Linked DNA regions of Homo sapiens: region 1 is linked to region 2. The links come from fine-mapping of genetic effects on gene expression. A gene starts in region 2. The other region holds a variant in brackets. All regions are shown on one strand. Distances are between the middles of the regions.

Region 1 (8,000 bases), 21 kb before region 2:
CCCCTGGTGATTCCAGTGTGTAGCCAAGGTTTAGGAGGGGAAAGGAGTTTAAATGGATTCATTTGGCTCTTTGGCTACAGCTCTGAATAAGGAAGTGAAAATTCACTAAAATAAAGTTTTGAGCTATCTGCAAATAGATGACATATCACAGCAAGAGCAATTTTTGTTGGCACTAAAATTAGAACTTCCTGACCAAGAGGGCTGTTTTGGAAAATCCTTCCAAGAAGCTGTCAAATGTCCTCTTTGTGGGTGTTTAAGAGGATGAGTTCTCTTGCTGGAACAGGACAGGGAGGAGATTCCTCCCTTACCCAAGGACCCTCTGAAACTCTGGGGACAAACCACAAGCTCTGCTCCTGGTTTCCCTACCTCCTGGCCCCAATTCTAGTGTGAGACTGGAGTGGCCTCTGGGGAAGAAGTAACATTTAGTGAGCCCTTCCCTCCACACCCCCCTATGCGCAAGCACCTTGCATATCTCATTTTTTTAAATCCCTATGTCAACACCATGAGGTAGAAATTATTACTCCTGTTTCACAGGGGAGGGAACTGAAGCTCAAAGCTGAACACACCTCCCAGGGTCACGCAGTTGGTAAAAAGCAGGGTCAGGATTGAAATCCTGTAGGAACCTCTGCTGACTCTACCCTGCCATTGGTTCTCAGACAGGAAAATGACAGACACGAGGATGACAGGCAGGAGTGGGAGATGCGTGCACGTGTGTACATGTATATAAACAGGGCCGCTGGCCTTCAGGGCAAGCAAGGACCATCCTTTATCCTGAGGTTATCTCTCTTTGGTGGTAAAATGTGTTTTATAAAGTAGGGTTACTAGATGACAGGGCTTTTTTTTTTTTTTTTTTTTACTTCAAATGTGCTTACTTGGTTATGTGAGCAGCTGGTAACTCTGTTGTTCTCGAGTTTTCTTTTAGAACTATACTGGTACGTAGCCGGGCGCAGTGGTTCATGTCTGTAATCCCAGCACTTTGGGAGGCCAAGGCAGGCAGATCATCTGAGACCAGGAGTTTGAGACCAGCCTGGCCAAGATGGTGAAACCCTGTCTCTACTAAAAATATAAAAATTAACTGCGTGTGGTGGTGGACACCTGTAATCCTGGCTACTCAGGAGGCTGAGGCAGGAGAATTGCTTGAACCCAGGAGATGGAGGTTGCAGTGAGCCGACACAGTACCACTGCACTCCAGCCTGGGTGACAGAGTGAGACTCCGTCTCAAAAAAAAAAAAAAAAAAAAAAAAAAAAAGAAAGAACTTTTACTGGTATGCAAAATCTCAATCTCAGAGTCGGAGCCCTGTTGCGTTCCCACACCAACCTCTCATGACCCCTCAGCACCCCAAGGAGGGGAGTCAAATCAGGAGATGATCCTGCAGCCCCGGGCTGGCCCATGAGCATTGGCAGGAGGGACGGGAGCCCCACAAGGCCAGAGAAACACCGGCCTTGGGCATCGTATCCAAGGTGTCTGCGCTGTGGCTTCCTGGGGTAGCACATGGGGATGAAAACAGCACCTATCCTGAGGATGGCTGTGATTCAAGGAGGCATCTGGGGCAGCTTGAGCACAGAGTACATATGGAGTGCAGAGCTGGACACAGGCACAAACCCCATGCCTCCAGGCCCCCATCTCCCTGACAGCATGGAGGCTCACATTTTAAAGGCTGTAAGTGAACCCTACACCTCCTGAGGATGTCAACTCATTTGTGGAAAATGCCTAAGCTTCAACAGGGCTTCTTCGAAAATGGACACGTGTCATCAAACCTGCATGGGCAGGCTTGGGGACTCTTCACCACCCCCAGGCAAGGGTAGCTTGAAGACCCGGCCCTGACCTACACAAGGTGAAAGCTCCTTACCGTTCGATGATGCGGTTGTTGTCCAGGAGGTCAGATGCCAGCAGCTTCATCCCCTCGCAGAGCTCTTGCATGCTGCCCAAGGCAGAGGCAGGAGAGGCGGCTGAGGCTGGAAGTTGCCCTGCCCAGACCCTTTTCCTGGGAGGCCCACCCTCCTCTGCAGCCCCACCAAAGAAGCCTCTTTATTCTTTTTTGTTTGCTTATTTGAGACGGAGTCTTGCTCCTTTGCCCAGGCTGGAGTGCAGTGGCATAATCTTGGCTCACTGCAACCTCTGCCTCCTGGATTCAAGCAATTCTTATGCCTCAGCCTCCCAAGTAGCTGAGATTACAGGTGCCTGCCACCACACCCGGCTAAATTTTGTATTTTTACCAGAGATGGGGTTTCACCATGTTTGGCAGGTTGGTCTCCAACTTCTGGCCTCAAGTTGATCCGCTCACCTTGGCCTCTCAAAGTGCTGGGATTACAGGTGTGAGCCACCGCACCCAGCTAGTCTCTTTAATCTTGCCTCCTAGGCCTGGCATGACGCCAAACCCCTCAGGCTCTAACCTCAGCATACTCTGCTCCCTGCAACCCCCTTCCACACAGATACACAACCGCTTTCTCCCCAGCACTTACTGGAGAAGCAGGTCCTTTCGTGTAGGGCTGGGGTAAGGAGCTATGGGAGGCGGCGAGGCCTGAGCCCCCTTTGCTCGGTCCTGAAGGAGCTGGTGAGATAGCTCTTCCAGGAGCTGCAGGGAAGCCATACTTTGGTCAGCAATTAGTAGCCAGCTTATGTGTGGCTGGGTAGGGGGAGTGCTGGAGGAGGGGAAGACATGGGTAACAAGCGCCCCAGCCTGCATCCCCAGAGCACCTAGAATCCTTCTGCCATGCCCACCTTGCTGAGACTCTCCTGGACCCCCTGGGCTTCTGTGTTACAGGCAGCCACAGAACAGCCAACCAGGCGCAGGTGGTTCCTGGTCTCGTGCACCACCCTCAAGAGAACACACAGAGACTTAGAATTAGAGCAGGACTCAGCCCATTCCCCAGGGCTCGCCTAGCTGCCATCGGATCCACACATGGACACAGGTGGGTCCCGGGTATTTGCCTCCCTCGCTGCCTCTGCCCTGCCAGCTGTGCCCTCCACGCTTGCCCGCCCCACTGCAATAATGCAGAAGCACACAGCTGGCTGAGGCTGGGAGGCCCCCTTCAGAGCCGTAGTGTGGAGCACCAACAACATGCATGTGGCTGGGGCTGGGTGACGCATGCCACCTATGGTGAGCGTGGCACCAGTCAGGCTGCAGAGAGGCAGAGGATAGCCCACACCAGGGCTCTCAGTGTGGGGAACTGCCCACGCTCTCATTTCCAGTGTGAATTCTCTTCTATCTCTAAGTGGAGTGAAGGAACAGGAACATTTTCCCCAAGGCCCAGAGCTGTTAAATCAGGGGTTGGAGGTCAGCCCTCGCCACACATTAGAATCACCTGGAGAAGCTGTACTACACTGACATCCAAGCCCTGCTCCAGAGCAATTACACCAGAATGTGTGGTGGGTTGGAGTAGAAGAAGCAGGCATTGGTATTCTGATATGAGGACGGGTGAGTGCCAAGGTCTCAGCCCCATAACAAGGTGAGGTCCTACAGGCCTCAGAATGTGGTAGCACGTGGGAAATTGTCCTCTCTTCTCAGGAGGGGCCAGTGTTCACACAGGCAGGGGATGGAGAGTGGGCCTGATCTGAGAAGGCGGAACCCAAAACTCCTGAAGGGGACAGTGTGACAGAAGGTTCTACTTAAGGGCCACTGCCACTGTCCTTATCCCAGGGGCACCTAGTGTTCTCCTAAAGGAGACTTCTCAATATAACCAGGTGGAACGGTAGAAAGAATCCAGATTTGATTTGATTTTACCCCTCAAAAGCCCTGAAGAATCTAGATTGTAGAGGCAGGCAGAGCCACATACGAGTCTTGGGTCTGCCACTTACTAGCCATGTGATGTGCAGAGGAGACCTGTTCTCAGAGCCTCAGTTTCCTCACCTAGGAAATAGGGTGATGATATCTACTGTATAGGGCAGGTGTTGTAGGAGTAAATAAGCTGAGCTACAGAAATCTCCCAGCCAACTGCCTGGTCCACCCAGGGACAGAAAACCACTCCTCTGCTCACACCCCTTCACTCACTCCTCCCTCTGCCTCAGGGCTCCACAAAGCCCTGGGTCCTCTGAAGCCTAGAAGGGCCAGGCCAGGCCCTGGGCTCCAGGAGCTCAGGAGGGGCTGTTACCTCATCCTCTTGCCGTGTGTGACTAAGGACGCTTGATACTTCTGCACGCACTCCTCCTGGAACACCTGCAGGAGTCTTTTGGCTAAATGACTGAAATTCACCCTAGAACGACAGAGAACCAAGGTGCAGATGAGCTGCCAGAACCACTATGCACAAGCCCACCATCCCTCAGTCTCCGTCAGTCTCCGTCACCACCTTGTCGTAAGTGCCCAAGCCCTGCGTCCACAGCAGGGCTATGTCTCTGGGAAAGGAGGAAGGACGGTCACACACTTGGATTGTGAAGGTTGCAGTGGCCAGCAAAGCCCACATCAACAGGGAGACGTGGGAGACACACAGGGGGTCCTCAGGGAACACACATGTGCTCAAGCTTAGTCCTCAGGAAAGGGAAGGGAAAGTGAGGCAGCCGTGGAAAGAAGGTGTGTGAGTGCGTGTGTGTGTGAGACAAAAAGGGGTCGGGGTGCTTGTAGAACTGGGGGAGTGAGTTCCCAGATAACCATTAAATCAGGGAGGGCCTCCTGGACGTGAGTGTGTCCGGGAAACATGGGAGACAGAGGAGCGGGGGGAGGCAGGGAAGGTTCAGGCAGAGGGCAGAAGCAGGAAGTGGTAAGTGGTGCATCAGTGAGGACAACTAGAGAAAAAAAAAGCCTGCAAACAGTCTTGTCCATACCAGAAGTA[A/C]ATCCAGTTACTTCAAGATTGCATCTGAGAAGTCTCCCTCCAACTAAGCTATGCATACTCCCTCCCCTGGCCCCAGATAACCTGTTATCCCCAACTCTGCTCAGCTGCAGTCCGGGACAGGGCCCTTCACTGCCTCTCCTCTGGCGTTGAGAATCGCTCTGCCCTGAGGACACCCACCCTCCTGCCCACCCACCTGCCGGAGGACAGGCCACTCACTTATCCAGCTTGTGAATCTGCTCCTCGTTGTAGCCAAGCCCTGGAGGAAACAGACAGAACAGATGTCACCTATTCAATCAGTCAACGAAACAGTGTGCAGCAAAGGTCGAGAGACAGTTAAAAGATGAAGACGGCCCAGCCTGTGCTGCTTCACGGGAACTCACCGCCCAGCGGAGCAGGAGGGGCAGAGGAGTGAAGCTAGCACCGGAATAGCTGATTAGGACAAAGCCAGGGCCTCAAGAAGCCATGGGGAAATTGTGTGAGGGCCCCAGGGGAAGGCAGCCTGCAGTGCAGGGCCGGGGTGGGGACGTGGGGGATGCTTCAGGTGGGAGTTGGTGGATGAAGTGGGCTTAGAAGGAGGCTCGGTCAACCATAGCCCCTTATCCAGCACCCTCCCAGAGTGACTGATGCCTGCAGCTGGGTGGTCCCATCCCTGAATGTTCATGGGCGCTACCTGCAACGAGCTGGAGAAATCAGGCCACCACCTTCTACCTCCCCGCTCTGCCCAGCCACTTTTGCCAGAAAGGCTGAAGCTTTCATGGCCTTGGCTGCCTCCTGAAGGGCCCTAAGGCTCATGCACTAGGGAGATGCTGCCCCCTCCTGGTCTTCGCAGGAATGGGCCTCCAGGGTGGCGGCAGCCCCAAGATGAAATGATGATGGCGGTTCACTTCGAGGGCCTCCCCATCCCACTCCTCTCATAGCAGAGTCCCCCTCCTGGGCCCTGCACTCGGCCAGCTAAGAGCATGTGTGCAGTCCGAGAGACCTGGGACAAACCTCAGCCCTTCCTCCTGTTGGCAGGCGGCACTAGGCGAGTGATTTCACTTCGCTGAGCCTGTCTCCTTATCCATCACAGGTGCCACTTGGGAGTCCCGTGAGGCTCATGCGAGAGAGCCTGAAGACCACCGGGCATTTTAAAAAATGGTATCTTTCAACACGCTGGGTTTTAACAGTTAGGGGTTCATTTTTAATTTTATTAAAGGACTCTTAAAGACCAATAGAAGTAAAACTCCTTTGAGGCTGTAAAATGGGATAGTTAAAAGCAGCTGGACCTAGATTACTTGGGCTACTTAACCTTTCTGTGTCTTGGTTTTCTCATCTATAAAATGGGGAGGGTAATGATGCCTAGAGGTTTTGTTATTGTTGTTGTTTGAGACAGGGTCTCGCTCTTGCCCTGGCTGGAGTGCTGCAGTGGTGTGATCTTAGCTCACTGCAGTCTCGAACTCCCAGCTCCCAGGCTCAGGTGATCCTCCCACCTCAGCCTCCCAAGTAGTTAGGACTACAGGCGCATGCCCACGTCCAGCTAGTTTTGTTTATTTTTTGTAGAGACGGGGTCTTGCTATGTTGCCCAGGCTGGTCTTGAACTCCTGGGCCCAAGTGATCCTCCCGCTTCAGTTTTCCAAAGTGCTGAGATTACAGACATGAGCCACTGCACACAGCTCCATGTATGTGTGTGTGTGTATATATATATATATATATATATATATATATACACACACACACACACACACACACATATACACACATATATAAAATTTAGTTTCCCAATAGAGATGTGTTATAAATGTTATATATATGTGAATAATATATATATGAATAATATATATATGTGAATAATATATATATGAATTATATATATATATGTGAAATATAAAACAATGAAGTGATGGGAAAGCATCCTGTAGTCCCAGCTAGTCAGGAGCCTGAGATGGGAGGATGGCTTGAGCCCAGGAGGTTGAGGCGACAGTGAGCAGTGATCATGCCATTGTACTCCTGCCTGGGTGACAAAGGCCCTGTCTCAAATATATATATTAGCATGTAATCAATATAAACAGAATTGCTAAGGAAATAAGTTATATATTTATGTGTATATATACACGTGGGATTTTGAAGATAACACAAAAAGAATATAAGGTATTTCCTTAGTGATTTTGTTTATATTGATTACACGCTAAAATGACACTGGATATATTGGGTTGAATAACACATTAAAATTAATTTCACTTGTTTCTTTCTACTTTTTAAAAATTGGCTACTAGAAGACTTAGAATTACATACGTGTCTGGCATTATATTTCTATTGGACAGTGGTTTTTAGATAATCCCAAGGAGAGAAGAGAATTTGGCAATAAAGCCCAAGACCTTCAGCCTACAGATTAGGAAATGCTTGGGGCCTGGGAGAGGAGGGGGAGGTTTGGTTCCTGGTGTGTTAGTTCCCCAACCTGAGGAGTCAACTGGAGCCTCCGCAGGCTCCCTCCAACCCCCTCACCAGCCCTCCCTGGGTCCCACCCTTGCACTACCCCACAATGGCAGTCACTTTGGACAAGCAGCTTCCCACCCCCGAGCCTGTAAATGGGCTGCCCCTGCCACAGCATCCTTGTGAGGATTAATGGATCAAGCAGCCAAAATGCCTGACCCAGTGACTCAAAATGGGACTTCTCCTGACCCCCCCTTTTCTGGAAAACCTGACTGTCTCAGTGTCCCAAGGACACAACGGATAGTGACATTCTATACTTTAAAGTGCCCTGCCAAGGTGCGAGATCTCTTTCCAGGACCACCTCTCCTACAGCACCCAGGTCCCGGCCCACTGGATCCCCCAACCATGTGATCCAAGTCTCTCATGTGGCAACAGGCAGGCATGTAAAGGTTTCATGTCCCCCACTGGCCTGCAGGCAGCTTGCAGACAGGGGCCTTGCCCCTAGAGCAGCTGCACAGAACCATCCGCTTAGTGGGCCTCCAAGAACCACCAGCTGGAGGTTAGCGGCCACTTAGCTGGAGGTTAGTGGCCACTGGTAGCACCAGTGAAAAGGAAGAAAGGCGAAAGAAGGGAGACAGAGGAGAGAGAAGGGGCATCTGCCCTCCCCGGGCTCACCTGGCCTCATCCTAGACTTCTTGAACTGTTTGTAGATGAAGTTCATCTTGTCCAAACAGCACTGAATCTGCTGGATGCTGTGGGCAGGAGACAGGGACCAGGTGTTGGAAGAATCTAATAGCACAGAGGAAAGAGGGAGGGAGGGGAAG
Region 2 (8,461 bases):
CTGTCCATCGTTCCTTTCCAGTGCACCGCCCCCACCCCCTTGCCCCCTTTGCTCCCTTCTGCAATTTGCCTGCTGTCTCTGACCTGCTGATGAGCATGGGACCAAATCTCTGTTATCATGTGGCCTGATTCTCCCCAGACCATAAGGGTCAAGGACAAGACCATTCTCTGACCAAGCACCGGACCTACCGTCTCCTCCACCGCAAAGAGCTTGACAATGTTCTGGTGGTTCAGCTTCCGCAGGACCTCAAACTCCCTCACCTGCACCTCGCGGGGCCGCAGGTAGCTGGTAGTGTTGAAGACCTTCACAGCAACCAGCTCTCCGGATTTCTGCCATTGGGGAGGGAGCAGTGGGAGACAGCATGGGATTAGCACATGTCCCACTCCCACAGGGGAGCAGCCACCCTCTCCTGGGCCTCCATTCAGCCTCTCCGGCCAGCCCAACCCCAGAGATTAGCCTGGTTGGATGGGGGCTCCCATCCGCACCGCCTTTCCCTCTCAAGGGGTAGAGAGTCCAGCACTGGGAGGTGACAAGATCCTGACACTCTGATCTTCTGCAGGGGATGGCTTGTTGTCATTATTACAATTGCTATTGACAATCATCACAGGGCAGCTAACACTCCCTGGGGTTAGCAGCAGGGAAGGGATTGGAACCTGGTCTGTATGGCTCCAATTCTTTTTTTTTTTTTTTTTTTTTTTTGAGACGGAGCCTCGCTCTGTCACCCAGGCTGGAGTGCAGTGTCAAGATCTCAGCTCACTGCAACCTCTGCCTCCCAGGTTCAAGCGATTCTCTGCCTCAGCCTCCTGAGTAGCTGGGATTACAGGTGCACGCCACCATGCCCAGCTAATTTTTGTATTTTTAGTAGAGACAGGGTTTCACCATCTTGACCAGGATGGTCTCGATCTCCTGACCTCGTGATCTGCCCACCTCGGCCTCCCAAAGTGCTGGGATTACAGGCATAAGCCACCGTGCCCGGCCGGCTACCACTCTTGAATAAGACAGAGTGGATATCATCTCATACATTCTCGCAGGATAAATCCAAACAAGGCCTAATTCCCCACTCTGCTATTCCTAGATTCCATTTGCTGTTACCTTCCTCGGATGTTTGCCTTGTTACTTCACAGTTCTCTTGCTCCAACTCGTGCCCGACAGAGGCATCCTCTCAAGGAGCCGTTTTCAGCTCCCTATGCCTCTGCTCAAACCCACAGTATGAGTGTGCTACACAACATCCAGAGGTCCCTGTCCCACCACCCTCAATGCCCACTGGGGGCTGACTGGGCCAGCTTCTGAGGCATGAGGGGGCCAAGGCTGGGCTGGACAGGGCCTGGCCAGGGTTGCTTCCTACCTTGTTGCGGGCCTTGTACACACTGGCAGTGGCCCCCTGCCCCAGCAGGTCATCTGTGTGCCACAGGTAATTGGCTGTGCTCTGCATCTCCTGCCCTGAGCTGGCTGGTCACCTTCTGCCTAGAGAAAGAGCATGCTGGGGGCCCAGGATTCCATTCCTGGCACAGGGTGGCCGCTGGTGGCCTGACCTGTAACTGTGCCCCAAGGCTACCCTAAGAAGGGCTCCATGTGGCCATTCCACAAGCAAGGGAGCGGGGGAAGTGTGAAGCACAGAAAGGTTAAGTAACTTCCCCAAAAGGACGCACAGCACAACAAGAGGGCCCCCACTGAGCCCTCAGCCCACAGCCGGCACCTGTTCCACCTGCTGCCTGTCCTGGCTCCCCACGTTCCCTTGAAGCCCCTCCTGAGGCAGGTCATTCTGCAGAGACAAACCTCTTGTCTCTACCACCTCTCCCCAGCACTGAAGATTCTGGGGTTTTGGCATCCAGGCTTGAGATTGTCCCAGGAAACAGAAACAGTATAGGAGGAAGGGCCCAGGGTCAGGGAGCATCTCCCACACCACCACAAATCTCCAGGATTGCAACATGAGTCCAGAGCCACTCCCCCAGCCCCCGCTGGCCTGCCTGCCAGGCCCACCACTTCCTGCTGCTGTGAGCTGACAGCCGGGCCAGTACTGCTCCAAGAGAGATGGGGCTGCTTCAGAGTGTGTGTGTGTGTGTGTGTGTGTGAGAGTGTGTGTGTGTGTATGTGTGTAGGGCGTTGGGGAGAAGGGTGTGGGTGTGTGTGTGAGAGCAGGGTATAGGGGAGGCAAAATTCATCATTCAGCCATTGGGAGAATCTGAAACCCCCTACAACTCTGTTTCCCATCTTTGTCCTCATCTTTTCCCCAAAGCCTAGTTCTCCTAAAGCAATTAGTACCAGAAAGTGTATCCTCAGAAGTTAAACTCAATTTCTCTTTGAAAAATAAGGCCAGTGCTGGCCTTTTTGGGATACCTGGGGACAGAAGCATTAGAAGGGCCACCATCCTTTAAATACTTTCTTTTTCCTTTTTCTTTTTTTTATTTTGACGTAAGGTCTCACTCTGTCATCCAGGCTGGGGTGCAGTGGTACAATCATGACTCACTGCAACCTCCACCCCCTGGGCTCAAGCAATCCTCCCAACTCAGCCTCCTGAGGAGCTTAGGACCATAGGTGTGCACCACCACACCTGGCTGTCTTTTGTATTTTTAGTAGAGATGGGTTTTTGCCATGTTGCCCAGGCTGGTCTTGAACTCCTGAGCTCAGGCAATCCGGCCACATGGGCTTCCCCAAAAAATTGCTGGGATTACAGGTGTGAGCCACCATGCCTGGCCACTTAAATACTTTTAAATAACGCTAGACTAGAAAAGGCATCTTCGTGTTCTAACATCTTACAGGTTCTCAAACTGAGGGTTGCCATGCCTGGAATCCTATGTTCCTTCGCTCTGAACTTTTTCTCTGTGTAATCTTTTTTAAAAATGCAAATCCTTGATAATGTCATTTCATTGAGCCAGAGGCCCCTTGAAGAGATCGGTGGTCAACTCCTAGTTTCAGATCAGGTAGGAGCGGACATTACACAGAAGCAACTGAGGTACTGAGAGGCTTCCTGAAGACAACACAGTAGCTCAGCATGAATGAGTGGGTCTGGTTTTCCCCGCTGAGGCTGGAGGCAGCCAGCAGGTCTGGGGGCTGGGGCTGGGGTTGGAGCACAGCAGGCTGAAATCAAGGCCAAGGGCTCTGATACTGGGGCAAGGAACAGCTCAGGACTCTGGGATAATAGGCAGTGAGGTGCAAAGCGCAGACCCCCAGACAAGCGGTGTGCCCCTGGATTCTGTGCCCGGGAGCTCTGGTTGTGGCACATCTGGCTTAACTCTGCACGCTCTGCAGATCCTCCCCCCACCACCCCAAGCACCTGGTGCAAAGAAGGGCTCAGTGGCCCTCAGCCAGTGGTTGGATGAATGAGCAGTGGACAGTGAAGCATGTGAGACACCACCCACCCACCTCTCCCCTCCCCTCCCTCCTCAGGGCTCTGCTGTGGCCAAGTGCACTTACCCCACACTCTGAGCTGCCCTGAGTCAGGCAAAGGCTCTTCCTGGCGAGTGTATGTTATGCTTTCTGTCTGTGGCACGTCCAGGAGCTGAGCTACACCGGAAAGAGGAGGGCGGATGAGAGGCGCCCCTCAGTGCAGTTGCTTCTCAGCCTCCATCAAAGGCCGCCGGCCCTAGCCCTTTAACCCTTTCCTGTTTGTCACCTTCCCCCACAGGGCTGGGCTGGGGGTTTCCAGCTCTATTCCCAAACTGTTCAGGGAGCCTTTCCCAGCGTCTCCTACTCCTGAGACTCCGGCCAGGGAGAAAGACCCCGGGAAAGGTGAGGGCAGGCGCTGGGTGCTGATCGCTGGCTTTGGGTGTTGGTAAGCAGAGCCCAGGGAGGGCTTGTGGTTGGCCCGTGGTGGCTCACCTCCATGCCACACACAACGCTCTATGTGAGAGCACCGCTGCCAACAAGCCCACACCCCTGCACCCGGCTGAGCTGCCCTGCAGCTGCCCCTTGTCTGGCCCCTCATTCCACCCCCACCCCCCTCCGCACGCTGCACACTCACCCCATCTCCACTGCAGGGGATGCAGGCTTGTGGGACTGGGTGACACCCCCAGAGCTTTCAGGGCTCACTGTCATTCATGAGCAGTGTTCTTAGCCTCCTGGTAGCCAAGGGCCCCTAGGACCCACAGGCAGGGCCAGTTGCAATGTCTGTGCCACCCCAGGAGCTGGGACTAGTGGGTTTCTTCCCTGCCTCCTTGTGGCGGTGGGACACCAAGCTCAGCACTGAGTCCTGGCTCTCAGCTCTCTCGCACTTCCTGATTTCCGTCTCTCGCTCTCTCTTTCTCTCTTAAAGAGACAGAGGCAACTCGGTGCAGCCACCAGCTCAGCAGAAAAGAGAAAGAGGATGCTCTGAGTTCCCAAGGGTAGGCAATAGGACCAGAGTGTGAGCCACAGAGAAGCCAGGAACTGGGGCCCTTCTGGTAATCTTGATGGGCAGCTGGGTGCTGTTTTGGCATCTCCCACAGTTCACTGGAGCAGGGAAGTTCAGGGCTCTTCCCAGAGTCAACAGAGCAGGTTGGGCAAGTTAACTAAGTGGAAAGCTGCCTGGGAAGTCCATGCTCCCACACCCAGGAACCCCAAGGAAGTGTGGGAGCTATGCCGATCCAGTCCTAGAAGTTGGATCTGAGTCACCTTCCCAGGAGGCCTGCAGAGGTCCGAGAGCAAGCGCGGGGACCCAGCTGATGCCTTCCAGTGTGACCTGAGCACACAGCATGCAGCCCCTCCCAGCCAGCTCACTCACCCGCAGAGTAACAGCTACTCTGTGGGTTGATTGGATGACATGGATATATTTGGAATTGTTTGGGAGCTTGGAAAGCATTTTACAGAAAGGCATTGAAGGCATGGAGGCCCACACACTTCAGTAATTTACCCATGCTCTTCAGAGACTGCTGGGGCTGGCACCCAGGTGCCAACTTCCCAGCCAGGACTCGATGCCCCACATCAAATGTCCTAGGAGGCTGGAGGGGTCTGTCCTGCTCTGGTCAGCTCAGAGATGGCAGTTGGATATGAAATGGTTAAAACCAGGAAATTCCATGTTTCTATAGAATGTTGGAGGGACTTTCCCATGGCCACACCTGGTGGTTTCCTCCGCCAGCCCCACCCCTCCCACAGTGACACTAGAACAGGAGCAGAGCTGAGAACTGCCTAGTGCTCAGATAAAGAGAACTCCCCATAACACCTCCAGCTGGAGGAGTTGCTGCAACTTCTCACATCAGGACCAGGAGGAATGTGCCTGAGTGCCTGAGATCCTCATGTTCCACCCAGTCTTCCCAGCTTGCTTTTTTTTTTTGAGATGGAGTCTCACTCTGTCACCCAGGCTGGAGTGCAGTGGCATGATGTTAGCTCACTGCAACCTCCACCTCCTGGGTTCAAGTGATTCTTCTGCCTCAGCCTCCCAAGTATCTGGGACTACAGGCATGCACCACCATGCCCGGCTAACTTTTTGTATTTTTAGTAGAGATGGGGTTTCACTGTGTGGTTGGTGAGGTGGATTGAACAGGTTGGACTTGATCTCCCAACCTCCTGATCCACCTGCCTCAGCCTCCCAAAGTGCCGGGATTACAGGCGTGAGCCAGTGGCTAATTTTTTGTATTTTTAGTAGAGATGGGGTTTCACTGTGTGGTTGGTGAGGTGGATTGAGCAGGTTGGTCTAGATCTCCCAACCTCCTGATCCACCTGCCTCAGTCTCCCAAAGTGCCGGGATTACAGGCGTGAGCCACTGCACCCAGCCTAGTCTTCCCAGGTTTCTGCCTGCCTGGCACATGGGAGAACTGCACATCCTAGTTACTTTGTGATAGGGGGAGCATGTGAGTTCCCCACCAAAGCATTTATTTCCTGATGCAAGACCCTCCCAGAACTCTGCTTTCTGGCAGTGTGATTCTGTTAGTCTGGGTCCTTGAGTGACTGTCCTGAGCAGAGTTCCCCTGCTGGTCCACAAGGGACATTGGCTTTGGTGAGAAATCAGCCTTTGTTGCTTTAGGGCACCGAGGTTTGCTACATAACTTAGACAATCCGTAATGTTTACCCACTTTTTTCCCTGATGAACCTGCTGGGTCCTCACCAGCACTCTTACTTTCCTCTCTCCGTCAATCTCTTTCCCAGCATATTTAGCACATTCAAAGGAAACTACCATGTGTCTAGCACCTGCTATGAGGCAGGCACTGTGTGCTCAGGATGTAAAGGTGGGCATCCCATCAGGAGCCTGGAGGTCCAGGATGGCATGGCAGATGCTATGAGTGGCAGACGCGCAGCGGGGAGGAAGGTGATCAAGAAGGGCTTTCCAGAAGGGTTGCTTGGCCAGACTTTAGGAAAAGGGGAGTTGGGCAGAGGAGAGGGGGCTGGGGGAATGGAATTCCAGGCTGTGGGCACATGTGCAGAGGCACAGAAGCATGAGAAGAGCCGGACTGAGGCTGTGAAAAGGGAGAGAGGTAGAGGTGGCCTGGAGCCATGTGCCGTGACAGATCAAGTTTCCTTGCGCATCCTCTGTGAGGTCACATCCTCTGTGTGGACACAGTGAAGCAATGTCTTGCCTGTGCCCCAGCCGGGCAGCACAGCCGGTTGCATCCGAGAAGGTGCAGGGGGCTGGCGGGCTCCAGAAGGGAAGAGGAAGTCTGTAAGAGTCCCCACCACGTGTTCCCAAGTGGCTCTGAGGAGTCCTAGAAATAGAAGTGGCAATCCAAGGGTAGTGCAAGGACCAGAGGTGGAAGAGGGCGGCCCTTGACAGCAGCTGTCAGAAAGAAAATCTCATGTGACTTCTACAAAGAGGCTGAAAGTATAGTAAGAAGGGCAGGGGCTAGCTCCATTGCCATGGAGGTTTGAGTTCAGATTTTACCACCTACTGTGGATGACCCTAGCACGTCACTCGACGTTTCTCATAGGGCTGGTTTGAAAGTAAAATGAGATGAAGCTCCTGGCACCTGGTCTGCTCTGAAAAGATATTAATTTCTTTTTCCACCTCTAAGGGGCCTGAGCCAGTTTTTCACAACTGACTCGCCGGCCCAGTGCCTTAAAGGGGAGGGGAAAGGACTCGGGTGCTGGTTGGGGTGCATATGGAAGAGGCTGGGGGGCATTGCCAGGCCATACGTTTTTGCTGTGCTCAGTCACAAGGGCAAAGGGCTGAGGGACGAGGTCTCAGAGCCCAGCTCTTTGTCACCTTCAGGGGTCAGCTCTGGCTAGGAGCTTTGGGTGCAGAAGGAGGGACAAACACTGCAGCCAATCTTGCTGCTATGGCCCCAAGCAGTGGGACAAGCTGTGAGGCAGCATCCAGGCCACTGAAGGAAATCGGCGCCGGTGCCAGCGTCGTCTCTCTTCGAGGAAAAGCAAGTGTTTCTCTCATTGTCTTCACTCTTCAAACCTCCTCTGCACTGTTCCCTCCTACACTGTCAGCTAAGGACCTTGCCTTAAACTTCGCTTAGATAAAAGAAGCAATCAGAAGGGAACCCCCTCATTTCCTCCCCCACATCCACTGCCTGCCCTGTGTCTGTACTCACCTGCCTTCCCTCCCACGCGACAGCAGGAAGTGCCTCTTCTTGAGCCTCTTCTAGTGGCCATGGCCAACCCTCCCGCTTGTACCCTGCAGCTCACCCTCTCCTCTCCTGCACATTCTTCCCGTTCTACTGCATCCTGCCCACCCCACCAACAAATGCACCTCTGCACTGCCCATCTTACCCTTGTCTCTCGATGCTCCCCATTCAACGAGTTGTCAAGTTACTGCCTCTTCCCTTCCCATTTGCCACCTAACCCACTCCAGTTGGACTCATTCCCCCTCTGCTGAAAATGCTCTTGTCCAATGATTCCCTTTCTATGCCACCCTCACCTTACCCCATTGGCATTCAACAGCAGATTCCCTGCTTTGTTGAAGCATTGTCCTCTCCTGCTGTCTGTGACCCTGTGCTTTCCCAGCCATCTACCTCATTGCCACTTGCTCATTCTGCCTTCTTTGCTGGCCCCCTTCCTCTGATGCATTTCTTTTTTTTTTTCTTTTCTTTCTTTTTTTTGAGACAGTTTCACTCTTGTTGCCCAGGCTGGGGGGCAATGGCGTGATCTTGGCTCACTGCAACCTCCACCTCCCGAGTTCAAGCGATTCTCCTGCCTCAACCTCCTGAGTAGCTGGGATTACATGCATGTGCCACCACGCCCAGATACTTTTTTTTTTTTTTGTATTTTTAGTAGAGGCGGGGTTTCTCCATGTTGGTCAGGCTGGTACCGAATTCTCGACCTCAGGTGATCCACCGCCTTGGACTCCCAAAGTGCTGGATTATAGGTGTGAGCCACTGCGCCCTCCCCCTCTGCTGCATTTCTAATGATCGGGACCTTCTCTTTTTTCCATCTCCACGCTCTTCCTGGGAATCTCTGTTTGAATACATCTATAATGTAATAGCTCCTAATACGTTTTCAGGTATTATCTACCCCCAGAACTCCAAATTCATACATCCAAGGGTCTACCTGATATTTCCACTTAGATGTCTACCAGTCATATCAGCCTTGCCAGATCAAGCAGAAT

The links. PIP is the estimated chance that this variant, and not a neighbour inherited with it, causes the effect.
Region 1: its variant is fine-mapped to the expression of IKBKE in monocytes (Fairfax 2014, PIP 0.95).

Annotation. Positions count from the first base shown.
Region 1 is chr1:206,487,842-206,495,841 of GRCh38, reverse strand. It overlaps IKBKE (inhibitor of nuclear factor kappa B kinase subunit epsilon), which reads right to left. Exons shown (of 22, transcript NM_014002.4): 16 at 7,852-7,928; 17 at 4,984-5,023; 18 at 4,093-4,194; 19 at 2,723-2,819; 20 at 2,464-2,576; 21 at 1,851-1,922. It overlaps IKBKE-AS1 (IKBKE antisense RNA 1), which reads left to right. Exons shown (of 2, transcript NR_172918.1): 2 at 2,766-4,726. Among named protein-coding and RNA genes, the nearest start is that of IKBKE-AS1, 5.9 kb to the left of the region's middle. The variant A/C (reference allele first, on the strand shown) is at 4,768.
Region 2 is chr1:206,466,199-206,474,659 of GRCh38, reverse strand. IKBKE (inhibitor of nuclear factor kappa B kinase subunit epsilon) reads right to left here and starts at 4,184. Exons shown (of 22, transcript NM_014002.4): 1 at 3,962-4,184; 2 at 3,415-3,504; 3 at 1,346-1,464; 4 at 189-329. The coding sequence starts at 1,432. RefSeq lists enhancers at 1,608-1,667, 4,808-5,117, 4,637-5,274, 5,949-6,812, 6,813-7,674 and 1 more.